Linked DNA regions of Homo sapiens. The protein of the gene in region 7 purifies or fractionates together with the protein of the main gene of each other region. This does not show direct contact. Each region holds a gene or a part of one and is shown on either strand. Other genes may lie near its edges. The genes, in order: KLHL15, SPN, CDK5RAP2, KLHL8, CEP63, CUL1 and DCX.

What was found.
Region 1: the proteins of DCX (region 7) and KLHL15 purify together in Homo sapiens (affinity purification with western blotting; one study listed by BioGRID). This does not show direct contact.
Region 2: the proteins of DCX (region 7) and SPN purify together in Homo sapiens (affinity purification with western blotting, with the first as the bait; one study listed by BioGRID). This does not show direct contact.
Region 3: the proteins of DCX (region 7) and CDK5RAP2 purify together in Homo sapiens (co-immunoprecipitation; one large-scale study listed by IntAct). This does not show direct contact.
Region 4: the proteins of DCX (region 7) and KLHL8 purify together in Homo sapiens (affinity purification with mass spectrometry; one large-scale study listed by BioGRID and IntAct). This does not show direct contact.
Region 5: the proteins of DCX (region 7) and CEP63 purify together in Homo sapiens (co-immunoprecipitation; one large-scale study listed by IntAct). This does not show direct contact.
Region 6: the proteins of DCX (region 7) and CUL1 purify together in Homo sapiens (affinity purification with mass spectrometry; 2 studies listed by BioGRID and IntAct, with this or other methods). This does not show direct contact.

What each region holds. Positions count from the first base shown.
Region 1 is NC_000023.11:24,020,687-24,024,186, forward strand, and holds part of KLHL15 (kelch-like protein 15), read right to left. Parts: intron 1-3,500. UniProt on the Homo sapiens protein: Substrate-specific adapter for CUL3 E3 ubiquitin-protein ligase complex.
Region 2 is NC_000016.10:29,669,154-29,671,376, reverse strand, and holds the end of SPN (leukosialin precursor), read right to left. Parts: 3' UTR 501-2,223; downstream 1-500. UniProt on the Homo sapiens protein: Predominant cell surface sialoprotein of leukocytes which regulates multiple T-cell functions, including T-cell activation, proliferation, differentiation, trafficking and migration.
Region 3 is NC_000009.12:120,391,772-120,395,167, forward strand, and holds part of CDK5RAP2 (CDK5 regulatory subunit-associated protein 2), read right to left. Parts: intron 2,868-3,396; coding exon 2,741-2,867; intron 1-2,740. UniProt on the Homo sapiens protein: Potential regulator of CDK5 activity via its interaction with CDK5R1. Negative regulator of centriole disengagement (licensing) which maintains centriole engagement and cohesion. Involved in regulation of mitotic spindle orientation.
Region 4 is NC_000004.12:87,182,619-87,186,118, forward strand, and holds part of KLHL8 (kelch-like protein 8), read right to left. Parts: intron 3,182-3,500; coding exon 2,633-3,181; intron 772-2,632; coding exon 585-771; intron 1-584. UniProt on the Homo sapiens protein: Substrate-specific adapter of a BCR (BTB-CUL3-RBX1) E3 ubiquitin ligase complex required for The BCR(KLHL8) ubiquitin ligase complex mediates ubiquitination and degradation of RAPSN.
Region 5 is NC_000003.12:134,548,557-134,552,056, forward strand, and holds part of CEP63 (centrosomal protein of 63 kDa), read left to right. Parts: intron 1-505; coding exon 506-620; intron 621-1,506; coding exon 1,507-1,704; intron 1,705-3,369; coding exon 3,370-3,456; intron 3,457-3,500. UniProt on the Homo sapiens protein: Required for normal spindle assembly.
Region 6 is NC_000007.14:148,785,903-148,789,402, forward strand, and holds part of CUL1 (cullin-1), read left to right. Parts: intron 1-648; coding exon 649-697; intron 698-1,086; coding exon 1,087-1,218; intron 1,219-2,654; coding exon 2,655-2,772; intron 2,773-3,500. UniProt on the Homo sapiens protein: Core component of multiple cullin-RING-based SCF (SKP1-CUL1-F-box protein) E3 ubiquitin-protein ligase complexes, which mediate the ubiquitination of proteins involved in cell cycle progression, signal transduction and transcription.
Region 7 is NC_000023.11:111,409,393-111,413,617, forward strand, and holds the start of DCX (neuronal migration protein doublecortin), read right to left. Parts: upstream 2,801-4,225; 5' UTR 2,746-2,800; exon of another isoform or gene 2,578-2,745; intron 1,755-2,577; exon of another isoform or gene 1,583-1,754; coding exon of another isoform or gene 1,362-1,582; intron 1,029-1,361; coding exon of another isoform or gene 1,007-1,028; coding exon 643-1,006; intron 1-642. UniProt on the Homo sapiens protein: Microtubule-associated protein required for initial steps of neuronal dispersion and cortex lamination during cerebral cortex development. May act by competing with the putative neuronal protein kinase DCLK1 in binding to a target protein.

The DNA.
Region 1 (3,500 bases), about 87 Mb from region 7:
CCAAGAGTGATGTCATGGAAAACAGCTTCCCTAGCCTTTAGAGATTGGATCCAGTGAGAATTCTAGGAAAAGCCTCTATTGGGGAATAAAACCCCAAATCTTCTAAGTTCTATTCTAACATGAAATCACAAATACTGTAATGTTAGCCTTTCAGTTCCTCATAAGAATTATACAACCAAACTAAATATTTTGGAAAGTCTTGCTGTTATGATACAGATTTCCTGCAAATCATTAGTCTATAATATATATCATTAACTAAATTCAAAGATCTTATCAGAGACAAAGGGTATTTTTTTCTATCCATTCTTACATGTTTCAGTGATTGAGCCTGATGAGCTTTAAGGGTCTTACGTTAAAAACAGAAAACCTGACAACATATTTTGTCTTTCCTAATTTCTTACTTGCAAAGTTAAAATTTCAAATTCTGAAAAGGTCTTCCACTTTTGGACCAGCAGCAATACAACATATACCCTTGGCAGAGATGAACTATGAGAGCCTTTCCAATGATTCTTAAAATGGCAATAATAATAATCTTATATTACTATCTCCCTTGGTGCCGCTGTTCCTTGAAAACCAGCTACACTCCCAACTTAAGGCCTCTCTACACCCTGTTCCCTCTGCCTGGATCACACTATCCCCAGATATATATGGTTCCCTTAGGGTCTTTGGTGTCATTTCAGTGAGGCCTTCCTCAAACACCCTCTTTTAAAGTTGCAAAACCCCATCTGCCCCATCAACCTGACAATCCCCATGCCCCTCCACTTTATTATTCTCTGCAGTATATTAAATGGCAATACAGGCTATCCATTTTACTTAGTTTCCTTTCTGCTTCAATTTGTCGGTTTTGCTTCACTGACTGTTGCATCTCCAGCACCTAAAACAGTGCTTGGCACATAATAAGTGCTTAATAAATATTTGTTGGAAAGACAGATAAATTTAATTCTCGCAACCTTCCATGTTTTGTATCCATCCCCGACTTAAAGATGAGAACATCAAAGCTCACAGAGGTTAAGTAACTTGCCCAAGGCTATAATTATTAGTAAGTTGTGAAGTTGGGGTCTGCCTGACTTCATAGCCTCCCCTATTAAACACTGTTCTACAATGCCTCACCCATGGCTCCATCTTTCATTTCTCTTCAATAAAAAAAAAAAAGCACCACATGAGCTATAGCACTCCAATTCAGAGAAAATAGATGCTAATAAAGTAATCCACCTCCTCTAAGCTAAAGATTCATTCTCCTCACAGTTAACATTATTCACTCTCAAAACATTTGCACTGGGAAAGGCCAGGCTTGACAACAGGCCACCTACATCATTTGCGGGGACTCTTGTTCAAAATCAGGGAAAAATGTTGTTAAAAGGCTGGGCGATGGCCGGGCGCGGTGGCTCATGTCTGTAATCCCAGCACTTTGGGAGACCGAGGCGGGCGGATCACTTGAAGTCAGTCGAGACCAGCCTGGCTAACATGGTGAAACCCCGTGTCTACTAAAAATACAAAAATTAGTCAAGCATGCTGACGCGCATCTGTAATCCCAGTTACTCGGGAGGCTGAGGCAGGAGAATCACTTGAACCCGGGAGGCGGAGGTTGCAGTGAGCCGAGATCGCGCCACTGCACTCCGGCCTGGGAGACAGAGCAAGACTGTGTCTCAAAAGATAAAAAAAAAAAAAAAAAAAGGCTGGGCACGGTGGCTCCCGCCTGCGCTTTGGGAAGCCAAGGCGGGTAGATCACTTGAGTCCAGGAGTTCGAGACCAGCCTGGCCAACATGGTGAAACCCCGTCTCTACTAAAAATACAAAAATTAGCCGGGCGTGGTGGCGAGCGCCTATAATCCCAGCTACTTAGTAGGCTGAGGCCCAAGAATCGCTTGAGGCCGGGAGGTGGAGGTTCCAATGAGCGGGGATCGGATCGCACCACTCCACTCCAGCCTGGGCGACAGAACAAGACTCTTGTCTTAAAAAAAAAAAAAAAGTCGTTAAAGGTAATAAAATGTAAAGCTCTTTCAAAACTTTCTTCTGTATCTCTCAACTGTTTCGCGGTTTTTTTTTTTTTTGAGACGGAGTTTTGCTCTCGTCGCCCAGGCTGGAGTGCAGTGCCGCCATCTTGGATTACCGCAACTTCTGCCTACCGGGTTCAAGCGATTCTCCCGCCTCAGCCTCCCGAGTAGCTGGGAATAGAGTAGCTGGGATTACAGGCGCCCGCCACCACGCCAGGCTAACTTTGTGTTTTTAGTAGAGACGGGGTTTCTCCACGTTGGTTAGGCTGGTCTCAAACTCCCGACCCTCAGGTGATCCGCCCGCCTCGGCCTCCCAAAGTGCTGGGATTACAGGCCTGAGCCACCGCTCCCGGCTCTCAGTGTTTTTTAAATTTGATGTTTAATGTCGTTCTGAGTAAAGGAAAATTAAAAATTTAAATTAGCATGAATTTTACCATTCACCCTTATACTGTACAATCCCAGTTTTACATGCAGATTATTAAACCAAGTGTGGGGCCCTTCTGAACATCCATGAAGCCAAGCCTGCCCTGATCAAGGTTAGGTTTCTGAGATAACCCGACTCGAGGTAGAGAGAAGGTCAAACCTTGAAATCCCCAATAAAGCAATGATTTGTCAAAATTTTATCAAGATTAGTGATAAATCCAATCTATAAAACCAGCCACTTTGAAGTAGGCTCTTCCTTTTACTATGTAAATCCTGCCCAACTTCTATTATTTTGCCTTTTTACAAAACACAAAAGCATACTCTGAAAGACAACTGGTATTGGACTAGAGGATTATAAATTTAATAAAACATCTAACTACTCAAAACCATTTGTTAGCTAAAAATAACAATATACCCAAAAATGCTTCTCTTTTCACTTTTTGTGGACCATTTAAGCCAAACCATACTATATTTTTGATATGCCAAGTAAAAATGATCAATACTAATCTGTTACACATATAAATCCTGGCAAAATAAATTCAATTTTCAAACCACAAATATTTACTATCCTATTCTTTCCCCAAATTAATCAGCAATGAAGAGTGCAAGTTAACATCCTCTACCACTGATAAACTGTGACTCTAAGCACCTACTACGTGTTGTGATTAAAAATGAGAATAAAATTATATAATTACATTAAGTGCTAAAAAGTTGAAATGTTCTATACATTTCTAGATCTATTAAGGATTACTGAAACATGAATGCATTGATAAGCTCTTCAAAACCAATTTTCAAATTAGTAGAAGTATTCAAGCATCCTGCTCCCTAGATATGAAAAACAGGCATTAAAATTAGGGCATATATGTCTGCAAAGCATTTTCTAAATTACCACTTAATCAGATTAACAAAGGCAAACAAATTCGGAAAACAGAAAAGACTAACAAATGTAAGGTGTTAAATATTTGGAGTAAGAAAAGGGGCCTAAAGCGGCCTAGAACGATGAAAAGCAAAGCCCCTACGGTAACGTTACATTTGAATTAAAGAATACCGTTATTTAAATAAGCAGTTAGCACTTCGTAGGAGG
Region 2 (2,223 bases), on a different chromosome or scaffold from region 7:
AAGAGAGGAGAAGAGCAGACTTAGGTGTGTTGATTTCACCACTACTTCCAGAATGCAATTCAAACTCTCAGCAGAGCACTATGGCTCACGCAGAGCACTGTGGCTCACGCCTGTAATCCCAGCACTTTGGGAGGCCGAGGCAGGTGGATCACGAGGTCAGGAGATCGAGACCATCCTGGCTAACATGGTGAAACCCTGTCTCTCCTAAAAATACAAAAAAATTAGCCTGGTGTGGTGGCGGGCGCGTGTGGTTCCAGCTACTCAGGAGGCTGAGGCAGGAGAATGGCATGAACCCGTGCCACTGCACTCCAGCCTGGGTGACAGGGTGAGACTCCGTCTCAAAAAACAAAAACAAAAACAAAAACAAACCTCAGAACTCAATTCAAACTCTTGAACTTTTCATAGCATGGCTCCAACCTCCACTTGCAGCCTCATCCCCTACCACTCTCCTCAAACCAGACACCCCCAGGCCACCCCCTTGAACACCTTTTTGACCACTATTTTTTCATATTGTAAAAGTAACAGATATTTATTGTATGAAATTCGGAAAATACAGAAGAGCATAAACAAAATAAAAATCACACATAAACTCACCACTTTGGAGATCAGCATGGAAAACATTTGCGATGGGTCCTTTGTTTCCCTATAAGTGCATATATGGTTGGGAATTTTTATTACAAAACTAAAATCATATGTATTACAGAGGAGTAACTTGCTTTTTTCCCCACTTAACATTATATTGCTGGTATTTTCCAAAGTCATTACATAATTTTCAAAAACATGATTTTTACTGACTATAAGTTCAATAAGCCATTTACAATTATTTTCATAACTAATATATTTAATCTTATACCATATTTTATATTTTCTTTTTTTAAATTTTTTTCCAAGACGGAGTCTTGCTCTGTCGCCCAGACTAGAGTGCAATGACACGATCTCGGCTCACTGCAACCTCTGCCTCCCGGTTTCAAGCAATTCTTCTGCCTCAGACCCCCAAGTAGCTGGGATTACGGGGGCATGCCACCACGCCTGGCTAATTTTTGTATTTTTAGTAGAGACAGGGTTTCACCATGTTGGCCAGGCTGGTTTCAAACTGGCCTCATGATCTGACTGCCTCGGCCTCCCAAAGTGCTGGGATTACAGGTGTGAGCCACCACGCCTGGCCATGTTCTTTCTTTTGAGACAGAGTCTCACACTATTGCCCAGGCTGGAGTGCAGTGGCATGATCACAGCTCACTATAGCCTCAAACTCCTGGGCTCAAGCAATCTTCCCTGCCTTCGCCTCTTGAGTAGCTGGTACCACAGGCGCACACCACTACACCTGGCTAATTTTTCATATTTCAAATTTTTTGTAGAGATAGGGGTCTATGTTGCCCAGGCTGGTCTCCAACTCCTGACCTCAGGTGATCTGCCCGCCTCAGCCTCCTATAGTGCCACCGCATAGCCACTGCACCCAACTATTTTCTTACTGTTCCTTGCTCTATCTCCTTTTTTTTTTTTGAGATGGAGTTTTTTACTTGTCGCCCAGGCTGGAGTGCAATGGCGTGATCTCGGCTCACTGCAACCTCCACCTCCTGGGTTCAAGGGATTCTCCTGCCTCAGCCTCCCAAGTAGCTGGGATTACAGGTGCCCGCCACCACGCCCAGCTAATTTTTTGTATTTTGAAACAGGGTTTCACCATGTTGGTCAGGCTGGTCTTGAACTCCTGACCTCAGGTGATCCACCTGCCTCGGCCTCCCAAAGTGCTGGGATTACAGACGTTGAGCCACCACGTCTGGCCTGCTCTATCTCCTTTTTTTGTTTTCCTTTTTAGTCTTAAAATATCCACTGCTTCTTTTGCTTTGCTTTTTCCTCCAGAAAATTAAAAGACATCTATTGTCGGGCACGGTGGCTCACGCATGTAATCCCAGCACTTTGGGAGGCCGAGGCATACGGATCAGCAGAGGTCGGGAGTTCAAGACCAGCTTGACCAACATGGTGAAACCCCATCTCTACTAAAAATACAAAATTATCCGGGTTTGGTGGTGCATGCCTGTAATCCCAGCTACCTGGGAGGCTGAGGCAGGAGAATTGTTTGAACCCAGGAGGCGGAGGTTCTGGTGAGCCAAGATCACGCCATTGCACTCCAGCCTGGGTAACAAGAGTGAAAACTCCATCTCAAAAAAAAAAAAAAGACATCTATTTCACGTTTGTTCAAAAAAGACTCTATATTGAACTGCTCCA
Region 3 (3,396 bases), on a different chromosome or scaffold from region 7:
GGGGACGGAGGAAGAGGAGGTGCTATGCCAACTTTCTCCTAGTCCCTTTAGACCCAGAGCAGGTCTGTGAAGTCCGCAGGGCTTGGAGAATTTCCAAGGACCTGACTCCTTGGGATGAGCTGCAGAGCCTGGCAAAGGAGGAGTTGCAGGCCCGGGTCAGCCACCAGCTATGCTGCCTGGAGCAAGCCCCTCACCCTGCTCTGGCGGAGCCTGCTCTGTGCCAGGCCTAGGAGATATGGAGATGGACAATACCAGCTCAGGAGGGGAAGTGCTATGAGACATTTGCGGCTCTTCTTACTATGAATGATTTGCCACCTCCATGCATAGGATTTGGTCTGGCCTAATGGAAAGAAAGAGGAGGGACTGGTTGAGCATCTCCTCTGCCCCCGAGACTGTGCTAAGTACAATACAGTTTAGGTAGCGTTATCATCCTTATTTTACAGATGAGAAAACTGGGGTGCTTTTTATAAAGTTGCTATTGAACCCGGGACCAACTAGTTAGTCTGAGTCCTTTGGAACTCACGTCTCCAGTTAGAGATGAGGAATCGAAAGCTTAGGGTTCTAGTCTAATGCAGGTCACATAGGAGAATGGAGATCTGAACTGTGCTCAATCAATAATTCCATGTTCTCTGACCTAGGACACAGGGGATCTGGGTTCTAGTTCTGTCCTTTTGACCGACCACAGTACTCAACCCATCGAAACCTACTTCTGCAATTTTCTCACCTGTCAATAGGGTTAGCTACCTGCCCTGTGACTGTTCAGGGCCAAAGGCTGCTGAGGAGGAGAGATGCCAATGCAGAGAGTTCTGCCTTTCTCTAGACCTATGCAGAGCATTGCTCCCCACCCCACTGCTGCTCCAAGAGTCTAACCTAAATATTCCACAGCTGCCTTAACAGGACCACAGCTGGCACTGTCTCTCTCCAGGTTCCCCTCAGTGCTCTTTTTCTCTACGAGTGACACGAAACCCTCAACCAGAACCCCACAGACATCCACCACTCTGCCAGGTTGACCTCCTTACAATCTTTCAAAACCATCCCTTCTCCCCCACAGTCCTGACCCACTGCCCACCTGGGGGACTGCTGCAGCCCCCAAAGAGGTCTTCCCGGCCTCCTGGCCCCTCCAAGCTCAGCCATGGGATCTTGTAATACACGCATGGACCCCGCCGGTCCCTGCTGCTCGTCCTGGAGTCCTGTCCACAAGGCTCCTTGCAACCTGGTTCCTGCTTCTCCCTCTCACTCATCTCTCAGAGGAAAACCCTTTGCACGTCCTAAGCATGTCCCTGAGCACTCAGTTCTCTCTCACCCCTGGGAGCACACCAGCAAGTCCACAGGGCCATCTGCCAGAATCCTATTCCTGCCCCTTCGCTGACAAATTCCTAGTCATTCTTCAAGACCCAGTCAGTCTTGAACCACCTCTCAGGCCTCCTAGGATGCACTCAGCACATCGTCCTGCAGCTAAGCTCTGTGTCTCCCCTATTAAGCCCACGACCCTCACTGGCAAAGACTGTCTCGTTCATCTCTGTCCCCAGGACCTGGCGTAAGGGGCAAAGAACAGGAACTCAGTGCCTGCTCAGTGGCTGCGCTCCTCTCTTTTGCAGTCCAAACACTGGCAGTCTCACAGAGTCTATTTTCAGAAGGTTCCCAGGGGTGGCTAAGGAGAACTCCTACTTGGCAATAATCTCTGTCCTGTGCTTCTCAGAAATGCCCCAGAAATGTTGGACTTTGACAGGAGAGCCGCACAAGGCAGGCTGGCACCTCCAGAGAAAAAGTGCTGCAGTCAGCAGTTCTCTTAAGACAGGGAAACTGACACACAGACAGCGCAGGCTTGGCCAGGGCCATGTTGCCAACAGGCACTAATGGAAACTCAGCTACCGCCTGCTCCTCTAAATGCAGCGGGAGGGAGTGCTGAGGGTTTAAACCAGGAGACAGAGCTGCTCCCAAACAATCTCCAAAGTGGCTAGATCAGAACTGGGACTGACCTTACAAAAGTTACTTAACCTCACCAACCCTGAGTCTCGGCATCTGCCTTGAGAAGTATTTCTCAAATCCATGCCCTCCTCTGGATCCCCAGCGTCCTAGCCACCTTTCCTGTCTGACTAGTGAGTCAGCCTCCCCCTCACTGGTGGAGCAGCCACCAGCGAGCCATTCTTGCACACAGATGTGACAGGCCAATCCTCTGCCCTGAGCCTGCCACCTACAGTCTTTCATGAAGTACTCCCTGACCCCCAATCCCTCCCACCTTAATTCACTGTTTGCAGCCTTTACCCCACAGGGACTGGTTTTGGTTTCTCACATACAAAAACTTATTTCCTGCCTTTGTGCCTCTGTCCATGCTCTTCCCTGAGGGACTGCCACTCCCCGCTCCATGTGACGACGTCTGCTTTCATTTCACACTCAGCGAGGTGGTCACTTTGTCTAAGACGCCCACCTTGCCGGGACAGAGTGACGGCCACCCAACTCCCACCCCAGTGCTCTGCATGTTCCCATCACTGCACATGCCACACGACTGTCTCCCAGTGAGACGACAGTCCCTGACACCAAAAGGCCGCTCTACAAAGGTGTGTTAAGTGAATACATTTGTCTATGTGAGTCAGAAAGGATGGAGTATGAAAAGAAGCCCACAGATAGGAGGCATGATTACAAACCATCTGGGCTCCAAAGTGGGTAATCCAGGGCAGAACTGGGAGCCCTCGGAGGCAGGAAGTGGTCAGGCATAGCGGCCACCCCCACACTCACTCACATTGATCAAAGATGACTTTTTCCTGGCGCTTGCTCAGCTGCAAAAGCTTCATGGTGTTTTGCAACTTCTTTTCTTGTTCAAACAATTTTTTATGTAGTTTGGTGACCTCTGCCTTCATTTCTCCAATCTAAAGAGAAGAGAAATTAGAAAAATGAACAAAGAACATAAACATCATGTTACACAGGAAGAATTACAAAGCCATATAAAAAGATGATGCTCAACCTCACTAGCAAAAATATTTGAATGGAAACTAGAAGCCTTTTCCTGACAACCAGGAAAAGGCAAAATTGGACAAAACTCATTGAGGGTAAGGGGAAAGCACCTCGTGACCTCTGGTGGAAGTGCGGGATGGCATGGCCCAGTGAGAACGCCCTGGCAAGATCTACCAAACTGAGATGCGCTTAACTCTTTGCCCCAGCAATTCTACACGCTGGCATTTCCCCCAAGGAATAATAACATAAGCACAAGAAGATGCCTATGTACAAGGATGTTCGTCTCAGCATTGTTCATGGTAGGAAAAAATAACCTGATTTCAGTATAGATCTGGATAAATTATGGTACTTACATATAATACAATAATTTAGCAACTATTAAAAATGACGTTGTAGAGCTCTATGCATTGATATCAAAAAATGATCACAGTTAGTGACAAAAGA
Region 4 (3,500 bases), on a different chromosome or scaffold from region 7:
AAGCGAACATGAACTATTTTCTTGGGAAAAATTATAAAGTCTAAAAATTGTATCAAATAAAGGTGAAACTGCCTGCCTCCTAAAATATAAGGGCTTTAGACTCTAAGAGTTTAATATAACCCATTATACAAATGTTAGCTATGTTTAGTGCCCTTTTTATTTGGTAAAATGAAAAAACAAATATTTAGATGCACAATATATTTCAAGTTCCATGCTTGGCCCTAGGGATAGAAACCTAAATAAGATACTCAGCTGTCTTTGAAGAACTTAAGACATGTCAAATGAGTAAATGACAATGCAACATAGTAAACCAAGTTCAGAATCGGGAAAGATCTCAAAAGAAGAGATATTTCAGTAGGCTCTTCAGAGTATACAGGACTGATTACGGCTTTTTAAAAAACTGGCTTATTGGTAAAACTAAATAATGTACAGTAAAAATTATAAATATATAAAACCGTATTTGCCAATTATTACTTTAAGGCAATCAGACACTAATTATATTACAACTAAGTTTGGGCACACATGAACAACCCTCAAATACAACAAAGATCCTTCCAGGAGAATTGACAAAATAATTTGGTTACCAGCAGTATGCTTCCTTGGGGTAGTCCGAATGGAGTATTCAAAGTCAGGTACTGCTCTGCTACTCAAGTGAAGGTGGTAATTTCTTGCTTCATCCAGTAAATCTCTACATTTTAGATTTTGCTTGACAATCTGTTCTTTTGCCACAACACCCATAAGAAAATCAACCGGCAACAATGGCAGGCGAACCTAAGATCATGAATAGTTGCAATACAACAAATTTTATATTTTCTTGGGAAAATATAAAGTCTAAAAATTGTATCAAATAAAGGTGAAAACAAGATGAGTAATTCTCCACTTCTACTGCAGCATGTTCTCTTTTTAAAACTTAAGTTGTTACTTCATGAAATGTAACATGTTCATGATTTTCAATGTGCCAAATTATAAGCAATTTCCAGTACTGGTCTGCTCAAATGCAATCAGACTACACGTTAAATTATATCCACCCACTTTAAATATCGGTTTAAATAGGCTTTATAATTGAATTGTCTTCATTCAAATTGCTTACTTCCAAAAACGGTACTGACATAATCACAAGGCCCTTCTATTGATAAAGGCACAATCAAAACAAAAGTGCTGTGCTTTGTTCTTTTGCCTTTTTAAGCTAAGATTAAACATAGGGAAATGTGATTTCTTACTTAAAAATGTAAAAATTCATATCTGAAACAAGTGTTGTTTTCTTCAAATTAATGATCTTGGAAGGGAATATACTAACTTAGGGATGCATCCCCTCTTTCAACAGAGGCATTCACCATTCCTCTATTAAAGATACACTGATTTTCCAGTGGATTAAAGGGGATGATGAAACCAGGTAATGCTATTTTGAGTTAAAAGCACACACACACGTAAGGGGTTGAGTCCAGTCTCTCTCCCCAACTGCAAGACTTCGTTGCAGCAGTCCCTGTATCTATTGTTATGGCCCCCCTTGAACGAAATCTGCCTTACCATCTTAAAGAAAAACACATATACACAAATAAGATATAGCTGCAAGATAATGAAACTTTCTATTTGCTTTGCTGACAAACTTACTTTCAAAATAATTCTGAGAAGATGTAAATGTGTTCTGAACTTTGATACTCATATGAATGCATAAATATTGTGATATGCACTTGAAAAAATGTCTTATCATCATACTCTGAATAGGTTTACTTCATCTGCCTATAAATATCTAAAATGAGAACACTGGTAATTATAAGCACTTTCATTCTTCTTCATTCTTCTTACTATTTGTTTAAGTTTCTGATAATGCTATTAGGAAACTTTGTTATTAAAAATCACGAGAATTATCACTGAGTGCTTTTATCAAGCACTAAGTTTTAACAAAGCATTTAATTTAGAAAAAATAAGTAAATAAGAACACTCTTCTTTTAAGTAGCAAAATGTCATTTTACTTCTCAGGAATAAATGAAGAAAGGAAAAAATGGAGGAAGGGAAGGAGGGAAGGGAGAGAAAGGAGAGGAAGACGACAAAAGAAAAAAAGATCACAAGGGCCTATAATCTTCTTATCCTGGTAACTCCTATTGACAGTAAAAAATAAGAACAGTAACAATGAGACACATTTCTGAGGTTTAAAAAAAGTCAAACTACGGTGAGAGAAGAAAATAGAAGTGATGTCCTATGGTTGTTTACATAATAAATCTATCCACATTAGGAATAACTATACTTTTATTAGCAAAATAATTCATTAAAATTTAGAAACCATTATAAAACAATAATTATAAAGTATATTAATTTAGAGCTATTTCTTCAAACCATTTTCTATTGGCATAAATAAAATATTCATCATTAGTATCCCAAAGGAATATTTTAAATATTCAGGTTAAAAGCAGAGAATGATATTGCTAATTCAAATGTGACAAATTTAGATTCATCCTGAAACAGCACAGCAAGTTAACAGGAAAATTAGAGAGCTAAAAGCCATTTCTATTATTTATTACATCAATAATTTCTATATTCCTTGAAATAATCTACACTTTTCCTAATAAATGAAGCATGTTGATTTGCTTCCATATCACTTCATTTCTGTGTGAAATCTTATTTCAGCTCCTACCTGTGCAAGTGTTTCATCCAACCATTTGGAATGATGCTGAGGATTGGCAAGAAGCCACTTGATGGCAGCATTATAGACCTGCTTTTCATTTTCAATATTTAGATCACTGGAGGACAAAAGCTTATGGAGGTGCTGCGGTGATACACTTACAAAGTCTTCACACTCCACTACTTCAGTAAAATGGTCACAGGCATACTGATCCGCCATGTCCATTAAGTCTATTCGATTGTGACTTTCTGCAAAGGCTCTTACTGCCAGGCAATTGGAGGGATGAAAATGTAACTTCATGTATTCACAACAAGCTCTAGCCACCAGTTCAACCTGCAGAATACAGGCTGCATATAAGAGAGGCTGGACATTGTCAACAGTCAAAGTGAGCCGTGAAGAATAGACAAACTTTACCAAGTCTTCTATTGCATCACCATCAAAATCTCTAATCTCAATCAGCGTTTGCTTGGCTTCAGCCATTTCAGAAAGAAACATGGCTCTAAAGTAGGGAATAACACAAGCCAATACCAGCTTGTGACAAGAGATTAGCTTTGAGCCAACCTGTTCAAAAGAAACCAAGAAAGATTCTGTTTAATATCAAAATCAGCTTCAGGTCAGCATTTAACATGTGTTTGTAGCAGGGACAAAATTTCCAGACAAATTTAGAGTATCTTTTTATAAGGCGATCCTTTGATCACTTACTTTCAAGTAGGCCAGTTTCTTAAAGTCAGGTAATTTTCATATTCCAAATTAACCACATATCATATTCATATATATATATACACATACTTTAAAATTAAAAAAAAATTTTTTTTTTTGAGACAAGGCCTTGCTCTGTTGCCCAGGCTGGAGAGCAGCGGCGCAATCTCAGCTCACTGCA
Region 5 (3,500 bases), on a different chromosome or scaffold from region 7:
TATGTAAAAGATAAAATTGCTTTTAACATGAACTGTTAACCTTTAGGCAAACAACAAGAGAAATATCATTTTACACTTTTTAGGTTATCTTTAAGTAATACATTTTTTGTTTTTACATTTATTTCTGGTTTTGGAAACCAGTAAGTATTTTCTTACTTTTATCTACATGTTAAATACACAAACATGCATACACACACATATTTTCTGCTTTATTCCTTTTGGAATACTTGGAGTACTTGAGATAGTCTTTGTTATTATTGAAGTATATGTGTACTCTTCCGTTTGACTAAAATTAAGTTTATTATTTTTGACGTTGGGACAACAGTTTACATTTTTATCACAGTTTTTTTATTGATTGGCTTTTTAGTAATATTTTAAATGACTGAGGTGATGTTTAAGATATTGGCTGGATATTTTTTGGATATCAAGAATGTAAATTAGATAGTCCAATTTATAGGTTTCAGGATTTTGGTTTTAAGTATGGGATCTTATTTTTGTCATACAGTTTGGAATCTGTGAGTGCAACGTGTAAACAGCTGAGCCAAGAACTAATGGAAAAATATGAAGAACTGAAGAGGATGGAAGCACATAACAATGAATACAAAGCAGAGATTAAGAAGGTAAAAATCTGCATACCTAGGATTGCAAAATTGTATGTGTTTATGGACAAAGCTGTGGATTGGGAGATTATAGGGGTTATTTTTAATGAGAAAAAAATGTAGTTCAAGGGACCACTTGATATTTAGGAGTGGAAGAGTTTGTGGAATGTGCATAGGGAAAGTGCCTTCTTTCTTTGGCATCGCCCCTGATGCCCAATAAATATTTTTAAGATAATTGAAGGCTGTCCCCTTTGAACTCAAAAACTTTATTTTAAACATGTTTTGATGAAAAGTTTTCTAAAAGACATACACTCTGTTGCTTGCAAAAAAATATGAACTGTCACTTAATATTTTCTTATTGCCTAAAGATAGTATTTATGTATTGTCTCCTGTGCTATGATGTAGTTAGTATCCTTGTCAGCTATTGAGGTATGCAGAGCTGTTTGTGTCTATATGAATGGGCCCTAACTGTCCTATTTGTTTGATTTGTATTTTTTGTTACTTCTTTAAGATTACTTCTAGTTCCTTACTTCCTCTTGTTCTATTTGTTATCCTGTGGACTAAGATACCATATGAGCAAAACTTTTAGATTCACAACTAAAAAAAAGAATGAAGGTCACAAGTACTCTCCTCTAAATTGTGTGCATGGACCTTGATTCTGGTCCTCAGCACTTGAATAACCCATCTCTCCCTGTTTTGAGGTATAATAAATGATTGTAGGTATAACCACCTGACCTTCAGTACAGATATGCAACTTGGTAAATTGCTAATTTTTCTGCAGATTTAATTTAAGAGAAATTTAATGTCTTGAGATAAGGTGAACTTTTATTTTATTAGCTAGTAACATATTATTCTATCTAAATGCTTTCTCTTAACTTTTGGTGCTTTCTTTTCTGCTTCTTTATAGTTGAAAGAACAGATTTTACAGGGTGAACAAAGTTACAGTTCTGCACTAGAAGGAATGAAGATGGAAATCTCCCATCTAACTCAGGAGTTACATCAGCGAGATATCACTATTGCTTCCACCAAAGGTTCTTCCTCAGACATGGAAAAGCGACTCAGAGCAGAGATGCAAAAGGCAGAAGACAAAGCAGTAGAGCATAAGGTGAAGCCTGAACAAAACCTTTTTTAAATTTGAAATTTGTTTTAAAGATGGAGTTGATTAAAGACATAATTTTCATAATATTTAATTCAGTGAATTTTTATTAGATACCTGCTTTGAGCTGAGAGTATGCTGGCTAGCAAAGAGTTTAGTGAGCATGGTGGGGAGGTGAGAGTAGACACAGACAAGTAAAGTGACTGTATCAGTGGTGTATGGTGAGAGTCACTAGAGATCACAAGCAGCCTGAATCTAGACCACTCGCTGCAAAGGCCTTCCAGAAGGTGTGATAGCAAAGCTAAGTTAGGAGCAAGCTGGGTGATGGGGAGGAAAAGTGTTTCAGGCACAGGAAAATACAGAGGTCTCTAAGAGAGAGTAGAAACACGCTTGCTGTGGTTGAAACTAGAGTACAAGTGGGATGAGTGGAAGGTATGAGACTGGAAAGCAGGGACTGGCTGCTGAAGGGCTACGTTAGCCACGTAAAGGAGTTATACTGTGACCTTGAGGTCAGTAGGGAATGGCTGCAAGCAGGAGTAAAATTCAGTGGTCCTTAAATGGAGAATAAGCAGGGAGACAGAGCACCCAGATGCTGTTACAGTGGTAAGATGGTGGCCTGAGCAGTGGGCAAGGGAGGCAGAGGGAAATGGATGAATTCTGGAGATACTGGGCTGGTAAAAATGACTGGGCATTGTATTTGATTGGCAGGGAAGGTGAGGTAGGCAGAGTTAAGGAATGGTGCTCCACAGGATTTAAACTTAGGCAACTGATGGAAAGTGATGCTTTTTAATGAAATAGAGAAAAGACAGGGAGCAAGTTTGGTGAAGGATGATGAATTTGTGTGAAAAGTACACAGACTGGGGAAACTGGTGGAGAGGACATTGGTTTGACACATTTGTTTGGAATAAAGGCTGGAATTTTGTATGGGTAATAGTCAATTCCACAGAAGGCCTGGAGTTGAAGATTAAAATCAGGATTAGGCATTTAGCTGTGGCTGTCCTTTCTTCATGGTGACATTTGAAACCCCCTGAGAGACTTAATGATTATAGTGAGAAAGCATAGCGTAAGAAGAGAAGTGACTCAAACCAAACTTAGGATACTTCTCATTTAGTGTAAAAAAGATGTTGGAATGAAGCTTAAAAAAAGGAGCAGTGAGGAGGGAAATCAGATAGTTTTTGCCAAGCCAAGGAAAGAAGGAATATTTTCAAATGGGAATGGTCAAGCACAAAAGCTGAGGGGAATGAGAACTGAATATAAGTTGTTATTTTGTGAATAAAGTACAATTCCATGTGACGTTGCAGGTAGAAGCCAAATTGGAGGAGGCCAGCACAGGAGAATGGGTAGGGATTTAAGGGGTTCAGTGGATTGAAACTTTGCTGCTTTGTCACCTGATTTATCCTATTAGAATGATATCTTCATCCCATTCATGTTCATTCACCTTAATAACATCTTAAAAATCTTTTTAGAAAGTCCATATATATATATATATATATATATATATATACACACACACACGTACATATATATATGTATATATATATATAAATATGTATATGTATATATATATAAATGAAGAATATGACTTAGCCTAATGAAAATTCCATGTGGAAAAATTTTGTAAGATGCATGTGATTTACATGTTATATTTATTTTTTTCTGTTTTCCCCTTTTCAGGAGATTTTGGATCAGCTGGAGTCACTCAAATTAGAAAATCGTCATCTTTCTGAAATGGTGATGAAATTGGAATTGGGTTTACATGAGGTACATAAATAGAAACTTAAGTTTTTCTACTATCCAAGCCTTCA
Region 6 (3,500 bases), on a different chromosome or scaffold from region 7:
AAGTTGGAGACACCTCTTCAGAGTTTCTGTGGTGGCTGATTCGTTTTATATGAATTAGGGGGTCTTGTTTATAAAGCAGTCTTGTAGAAAAGACCTGTACAAAAATTCATCTACCTTTAATTCACCTTTGAATTATTATTTGTTCATAGAATGAATCAGTTGTTAAAGGACAATCATCTCTTGTATATACAACTACAGAGGGCAGCAGTTTAGTAGGAATTTAAACCCCTTCATCATCTTTAATGACTGGGCCATGAAAGGGAATCTATGTGCCTTTTTATTTCTCCAAAGTTAAATTACAGCAGACTAGAAAGCAATTGGTAAAGTGAATTTCCTTTACTGAAGTTTAAGTGGATTATCTTAAAGGCAAACTTCTTCAGAATGTTTTTGGAAATGTTTTATAAATATCTCCTGTTGGTTTTCACCTTGGATATTCTAAATGACTACTTCATAATCTGTTCTTCAGTGTTGAGGTTACAGTATGAGATTGCCAGTTTGCTGTAGGTAAGGAAAGTCAACCTTCCCTCTTCCTCTGCACTAATCTGATGAGAACTGATCTTTTGAATGCTTGAAGCTGCATTCTGGCTAAGTGGTGCTTGTTTAAACGTACTGATGTTTTAAAACATGGTATCTTTTTAAAATTTTCAGTTCCAAGAACCCAGAGGAGGCAGAACTAGAAGACACACTCAATCAAGTGGTAAGTGCTTCATGAGCATACCCATTTCCAGTAGCTGTGTATTTCACAAGCTGTTTGTAATGTTATTTGTAGATGGCCTCTGAAATGTGAAAAGTAATAATCATTGATTTTATTTTGAATCTCTGGTTTTACTTCCTAAATTGAGTTACTACTTTTAGCATTCATACTTTTCTCATTAATACTCAGTCAGTCCAACTCACTGAATTAAGGGACTCACAAAACTTTCAAGACTCTGGAGTGGAGATTTTGCCATCATAAACGTTGGCGTACAGACCTGCCCAAAGCCAAAGGCACATCTTGGCTCCTGGCTTGTGGCCGGTGACAGTCAGCTCTGCACTGTTGGCTTGTGTGTGTGCTGGTTAAGTGTGTTGTCTCGGTGGCTTTGCCAGATGGTTGTCTTCAAGTACATAGAAGACAAAGACGTATTTCAGAAGTTCTATGCGAAGATGCTCGCCAAGAGGCTCGTCCACCAGAACAGTGCAAGTGACGATGCCGAAGCCAGCATGATCTCCAAGTTAAAGGTGAGTTTCATCTTTTCCTGAAAAATCCCAGCTTCTGAGTCATTATTAAAACAGCTCTATGGCCGAGCGCGGTGGCTCATGCCTGTAATCCCAGCACTTTGGGAGGCCGAGGCGGGCAGATCACGAGGTCAGGAGATCGAGACCATCCTGGCTAATATGGAGAAACCCCATCTCTGCTAAAAATACAAAACATTAGCCGGGCATGGTGGTGGGCGCCTGTAGTCCCAGCTACTTGGGAGGCTGAGGCAGGAGAATGGCATGAACCCGGGAGGCAGAGGTTGCGGTGAGCCGAGATCACACCACTACACTCCAGCCTGGGCAACAGAGTGAGACTCTGTCTCAGAAAAAAATAAAAAAGCTCTTAGTCTCTCCAGGTTATGAGGCAGGCAGAGGAGTTTGTGCAGTGGTTTGTACAAGAAGCTCTGCCACTGCTCTTCTGAAAGCCTCCCACAACTATCACTCTACTCTCGTTGGGCCCCGGTGCCTTCCCAACCCCTTCCCCACCCCACTGTGGGGCTTCCATCCTACCCAGGCCTGGCTGGGCTCAGCTCACCATCTGTGGGGCCTCTCCTGCCTCCCACACCTTTAGCCTTGCAGCACATTCACACTTCCACACTGTGCTGGCCTGGAGCTGAGTGGAGGTTTTGTTTGCTCTGGGCTTGGTTACTTTGCTGTCACGCAGCCCTTCCTCTGCCACCTCCTTTGCGTGCCTGTGTGTCGGCGCTGTCGAGTGCTCTTATCTGACTTGGGACATACTTTACTTTGGCCCCAAATTATGTAGGTATCTTTGTCAGCGTGGGCTGCCATGACGGAATACCATAGACCAGGTAGCTTAAACAACAGAAATAGTTTCTCACAATTCTGGGGGCCACAAGTCCGAGATCAGGGTGCCAGCTGATTCGGTTCCTGGTGCAGGCCCTCTTCCTGCTTTGTAGGCAGCCACCTTCTTGCAGTGCCTCACGTGTCAGAGAGAGAGTGCAGAGCTCTTGCACATCTCTTACAAGCACACCAATCCCATTGTGAGGCCCCATGCTCAAGACCGCATACCTCCACACAGCATCACGTTGGAGGTTTGGGCTTCAACATAGGGATTTTGGGGGCACACAGTTCAGCTTCTGGTAAGAGATAGAGACAGATTATTTCATCATTGTATTCTACCAGTGTCAGGACACCTTGCTCTTAAATGCTCACAAATTGTGTATGAATTGTGTGTGTGAACACTTCACTGTGCAACATAGAGTTGTGGGGTTTTTTGACAGTGTATTAATATTAATCCATGCATATTTGTACTGTAAAATATAGCAAAATGTTACTAGCTTTGCTAGTAGTTCCATATAATTAAGTATATATTGTATACTCTGATTTCTCTAAGATTCCCTTGTATACATTTGTATTTTTGTACAAATTAATAAGACAGTCATCTGGGTTCTTCTCAGCAAGCTTGCGGGTTCGAGTACACCTCTAAACTTCAGCGCATGTTTCAAGACATTGGCGTGAGCAAAGATCTGAACGAGCAATTCAAAAAGCACTTGACAAACTCAGAACCCCTAGACTGTGAGTATCCGTGTGTCTCTATGTTGTGTTTACAGGCAGAGTTCTCTGTAGCAAATGAAGAAATGACAAAATATTAGGTGAAGATGGGAGGGGCTTTGTCAGAAATTCAAGAACTAAGAAGCGGGAGATTCCTCCCAAATGCCCAGCCCTCCTCCCCCGACTCCCGTGTGACATTAGGAGATGACAACCCTTGAAGTGGTGTCAGCTCTACTGGGGCAAGGTCACCACCTGTTGGGATCTGGGGAGGGACTCACAGGCGTGGTTTTGTCTTGTAAACCTTAGCTTGGATCCATTCTAGCATTTATTTTAATGTTCACTTGGCCTGCATAGGTAACAGTCAAGCTAAAGACCTGTGGCTTCAGACTGGGATTAGGGATCAGTACAGGCAGGTGCAGGTGATTCAGTTCTCCAGGAGAGGCAGCTGGGCTGGTATTTTAGGGCCTTGCATAGTAGTAGGATGGCGGATTTATGCTTACATCATCTTTTGATCATCTTTGTCTTTTTAAATGAAAAATGGAGAATTTTATTTTTCCCAAATCAGAATGACAATTCTATTGTAAAACTGGACAGTTTTGCCAGTGGGCTTTTTAACTATCTGCGAAGATGAAATTACTGTTATAATTTATAGACCATGTGTGGCGTTTCCCAGTAATAAGTGAAACATACACTATAATGAAGTTAGCGGTTTTCTCCTGCTTGTGAGTTTGCATGAGTCTGGGGCTGTGATG
Region 7 (4,225 bases):
AGTCAAATCCTATTCTAATAGGAATGGTCTTTATTAAAATACCAGACATACCTACAGCTTTCTTTGGTATTTCTCCCAATGACCTCAGCCTTAGGGACACACCCTAAAGTAGGCTTTTTAGAAGCAACAGCTGAGCCGCGACCACTTACCTAAAAGAATAATCCTCTGTGAATATGTCCAGGAAATCCTGCTCTTAGGGTGCATATTTCCAATGAGTTGCAATTCACAAATAATTTCTCAGCAGTTCAAAGAAAATTTGGGCATAATATTTTCTCTGTTAACCCAACCAAATGTCCTTCCTCGTTATACCCTTAATGATTTCATGCTCTGCCTCAATAGTGCTACTCAGAGTTAATTATGAACAAAATCTAGAGTAAATGCTACAATTAAGATTTTCCTTTTTATACCCTGGCAGATAAGCACAATGCATGATCACCACCATTCACACTTCAACCTCAGCAGAGACTGAAGGGTGATTGCTAATGGTTCTGTTGATGTCTATAGCATTAGAAATTTGAGCATCAATCAACCCGGTGTTTTGAAAAATACATTGCCTAATTTTTTTTCAAAGCAACCGAAGAATGTAACCATAACCAATGATGCCACCTCCCACCAACGGCCACCACCCACTATTTAAATTACCTTCCTCCAGTTCATCCATGCTTCCGATCTTCCTGGATCCATCAATGGTGTAAATGTAACGCACTCCCTGAGGCAGGTTGATGTTGTCAGACAGAGATCGCGTCAGGTCAGCCAGCAAGGCGTCAAAGCTGCGAAAACGGTCAGAGGACACAGCGTACACAATCCCCTTGAAGTAGCGGTCCCCATTGCGGTAGAAACGTACCTTCTTGGCTTTCTTCTCATTACTCAGTGCCTGCAAGGTTCTGGTTCGGTAGAAGCTACAGTGGGCGCTGTGAGTGGGGCTAGGCAACCCATTCATCCGGGAGCCTCGCATGTTCCTGGATGTCTTATCTCTTTCGTCAAAGTGTCCAAAATCAAGTTCCATATTTTGGTGGAACCTCAGAGACCTGAGCGTGGGAGAAAGGGATGGGGGTGAAGAGAGGCAAAAACAAAAAGGGACAAGGAGAAGGAAAAAAGAAGGGATTTTAAATATTAGCCAGATCCAGATCTGCAATCTGCTGCTTGTGAAAAGAACTGGTTGAAAAAAGCCTGTGACCCATCTGCTGCTTGCCCCTGACCTGCAGGAATATTGATCTTAATAGAGAAGAAGGAGGGGCTGGGCGGGGGTGCTGGTGGTTGTGGGGGTTGGGAGTAAGAGATAGAGAGGGAGGCACTCTTGGCACTGTTCCAGACAGAGGAGAAGGGGAGATTTTGAAATAGCTGAAAATCCTGAGACTTACTGACAGTGGCTCCTATCAAATTGGAACTTCGGGCTAAATACATTAAAACTGGCATCTGTTTCCTCACACATGCCCACATGACTAACAGTTGTAAATGAATCCATAGCCTGACAAAATTCCCCTTGAAGAGAACAGAAGGAGCTACCCAAGGTTAGCATCTCCAGCTTAGGAAGCAGTCTTTGCATTTCAGTACAATGACTATGAAGGGGGAGTGTTTTCATTTTATTCCAAGCCCTCTTTCCTACTCTAATGTGTGCATCCCCTCCCCCCAGAATAAACTAAGATTCTCCTTTAAAGGGACAGCCTCCAGGGAACAGCCAGTGTCTTTGTGCTATTCATCAAACCCTTTCCCCACCAAGCTGGTGCAGCTATCCGACATTCATAAGAAATAAGCTGGGGGGAAAAAGGATTAGAAAAATAAGTTATTTAACAAGTTACTAGCTCTGTCTTCCCCCGGTTCCATTTGTTCACAAAATCCTTTTTTTTCCCCCCCAGGTGCTCCACCCCCTCCCCACTGATGCAGCAACACCTCTTAATGGAATAATTTAATTGTTGAAAGATTCACAAATGACTCTCCGAACAGCATACGGGACCTTTAGAAGGAAGCACACCTTTCATTGTTCTGGGTTTCTACCTTAATTGAAGTGACATTTACCCTCACAGCAGGCAATTCACCCCAAACTTGTATATTGCCCAGGTGCATTAGCTGAGAAAAGATGGTCATTTGTCAGGCTTTGCTTTTCTCCCTTCTGTTGAACCCCCTCCCCCACCAAGAACCCCAAACAATCAAAACATGAAACCCAATACAACTGAAGCCACAAATGCTAGCAAATGTAGTGACATCCTACGAGCCAAACTATTAACATGCATCTCACAGATGGGGATAAAAGGACTCACAAAGCAAGCAGGGCTCAGCTGCTACACACTGCCACATCAATATATTTGCAAGGGACCAGGAGGACAGGAGATAAGAAAGACTGGTGCCTAATGGGTCTGCCAGGCTCAATTCCGCCTTTTTTCCAATGTCACCATGACCTATGCTGAGCTCAGCATTGTCTCTGTCAGACAACCTGCAGTGGTAAGAGACCCCACCTCCTCAAGGCAAGCAGCAAACATTTCCCCAGGCATGCCAGTAAGGCTTTGCTTTGCTTTAGGATCAGAGGTAGTATTATTCTAAATTAACATCACAGTGAAAACAAAGGAACATCAAACTCACTTTTCCAAAGGAAAATCCCAGGTAGAAGCTTAGGGAAAAAATCGGATAGAATAAGGCAAAAAAGGAGAAGAGGAGACAGAGAGACAGAGAGAGCAGGCTTTGCCTTGTGCTTTTCCCGTTTGACATCTGTTACATTCTTCTTGAAAATCACTTAAAAGCCCCACTCACCGGTTTTCTGCTGGTTGGGTGGAGATGCTGAGAGAAAGAAAACCAATCTCTCTATGCCTTTGTTGTCTGAGCTCCAAGCAAGAAATTCCTGCCAGGGTGGATAGATGCCTTCTAGGTCCTAGTGCCTTGTCCAGCTTCTCCCATGTAACTCAGGCTTAGTGAATCCCCCCAACCTCCTATGATTAATTACATGCTTTTAAAAAAATTCACAGGCTGCATTAACAGCTAGAAAGGTTTCATTTATAACCAACAGGAAATTGCGGGGTAGCAAAAAGATTGCGCAGACAAAATCAGAATGCTCTAATGAGCAATGTGCTAGCCCTTTCTTTTAGAAAATTGGCAATTTCACTTGGCCAAAACCTTGGCCTAATCTGCCTGGGGGCCAGACTCAGACAGCCAAGCCAGGCTTCTTAGAAATTGTAGCTCTCTTCCTTTTACCCTCTTGAGAGAAAAAAAATAAAATAAAATCTGCAGATTCTTTAAGGCAGTTTAGCTCAAGTATCCAACAACTGGTTTTTTGTTTTTTAATGAAGTCAACAAAGTAGACTAAGAGGAAGTAGGATAGGAACAAAACAAGGGAAAATAATTTTAGAATATTATGGAAGATAGAAGTAAAAAGGACATCCCAAATCTATCAGCTTGGTGTAAGAATTTGGTTAATGAAAGGTTAATGTGGCATTTACCTTTGAGAGTTTGGAAGTTCAAACCCAACCCAAAGACCTTTCTATGTGAAGTAAATCTGATGGCTACAAAATAAATATTAACAGATTTCTCCTCAAACTGCTTATTTGTCACTAACTGACTTCTTTATATAAAATATGTTACAAAAAAAACTCAAGGAAGCATCCAAATTGAACTAATTAGATCAGGCCGAACTATAAAACAAAAGAGAAAGGTGAGAGGTTAAATGGGGTAGGGGGATGCTACCATCTTCACAATTGAAGCTACATGCATCAATATGTAGCAGCCTTGAACTATCATGGTTCTATTTTTGCTTGGCTTCCAGGAAGCTCAGAGCTAAGAGCATGCTCAGTAATTATTTTATATCTGATTCCTAGTATAATTAACCCTTCCTTTTATATAGTGCTGTTGAACTTTTATATTTAAGCATTTTCTCTGCATGTGTTTTATTGTAAGCTGCCACCAAGTGGGATAAAATATATGATGGTCTTTCTTCTGTGAAAGGTGTTGACTCAGCAAAGCCTGGAACTGTCTGTTAGTTGAGTGGATAGCCTCAAATGTGCAACCTACCTAGTTAAGTCCCCCCAACACCTTGCTGCTGATTTCTTGGTTACTATACAAGTACCTCAGGGGAATGCATGTGTCTGCCCTGTTTTCTTCCATGTGTTGTTGCCTTACCTTGTGGCAACCTCATGAAAAATCAACATTATTCAGGCTAGAGGCAAAGAAAAATCAAGGAATAAGGGCAGGAAAATATGGAAATTCCAACAAAGCTAATGTCTTAAAACTTCTTTCTTGC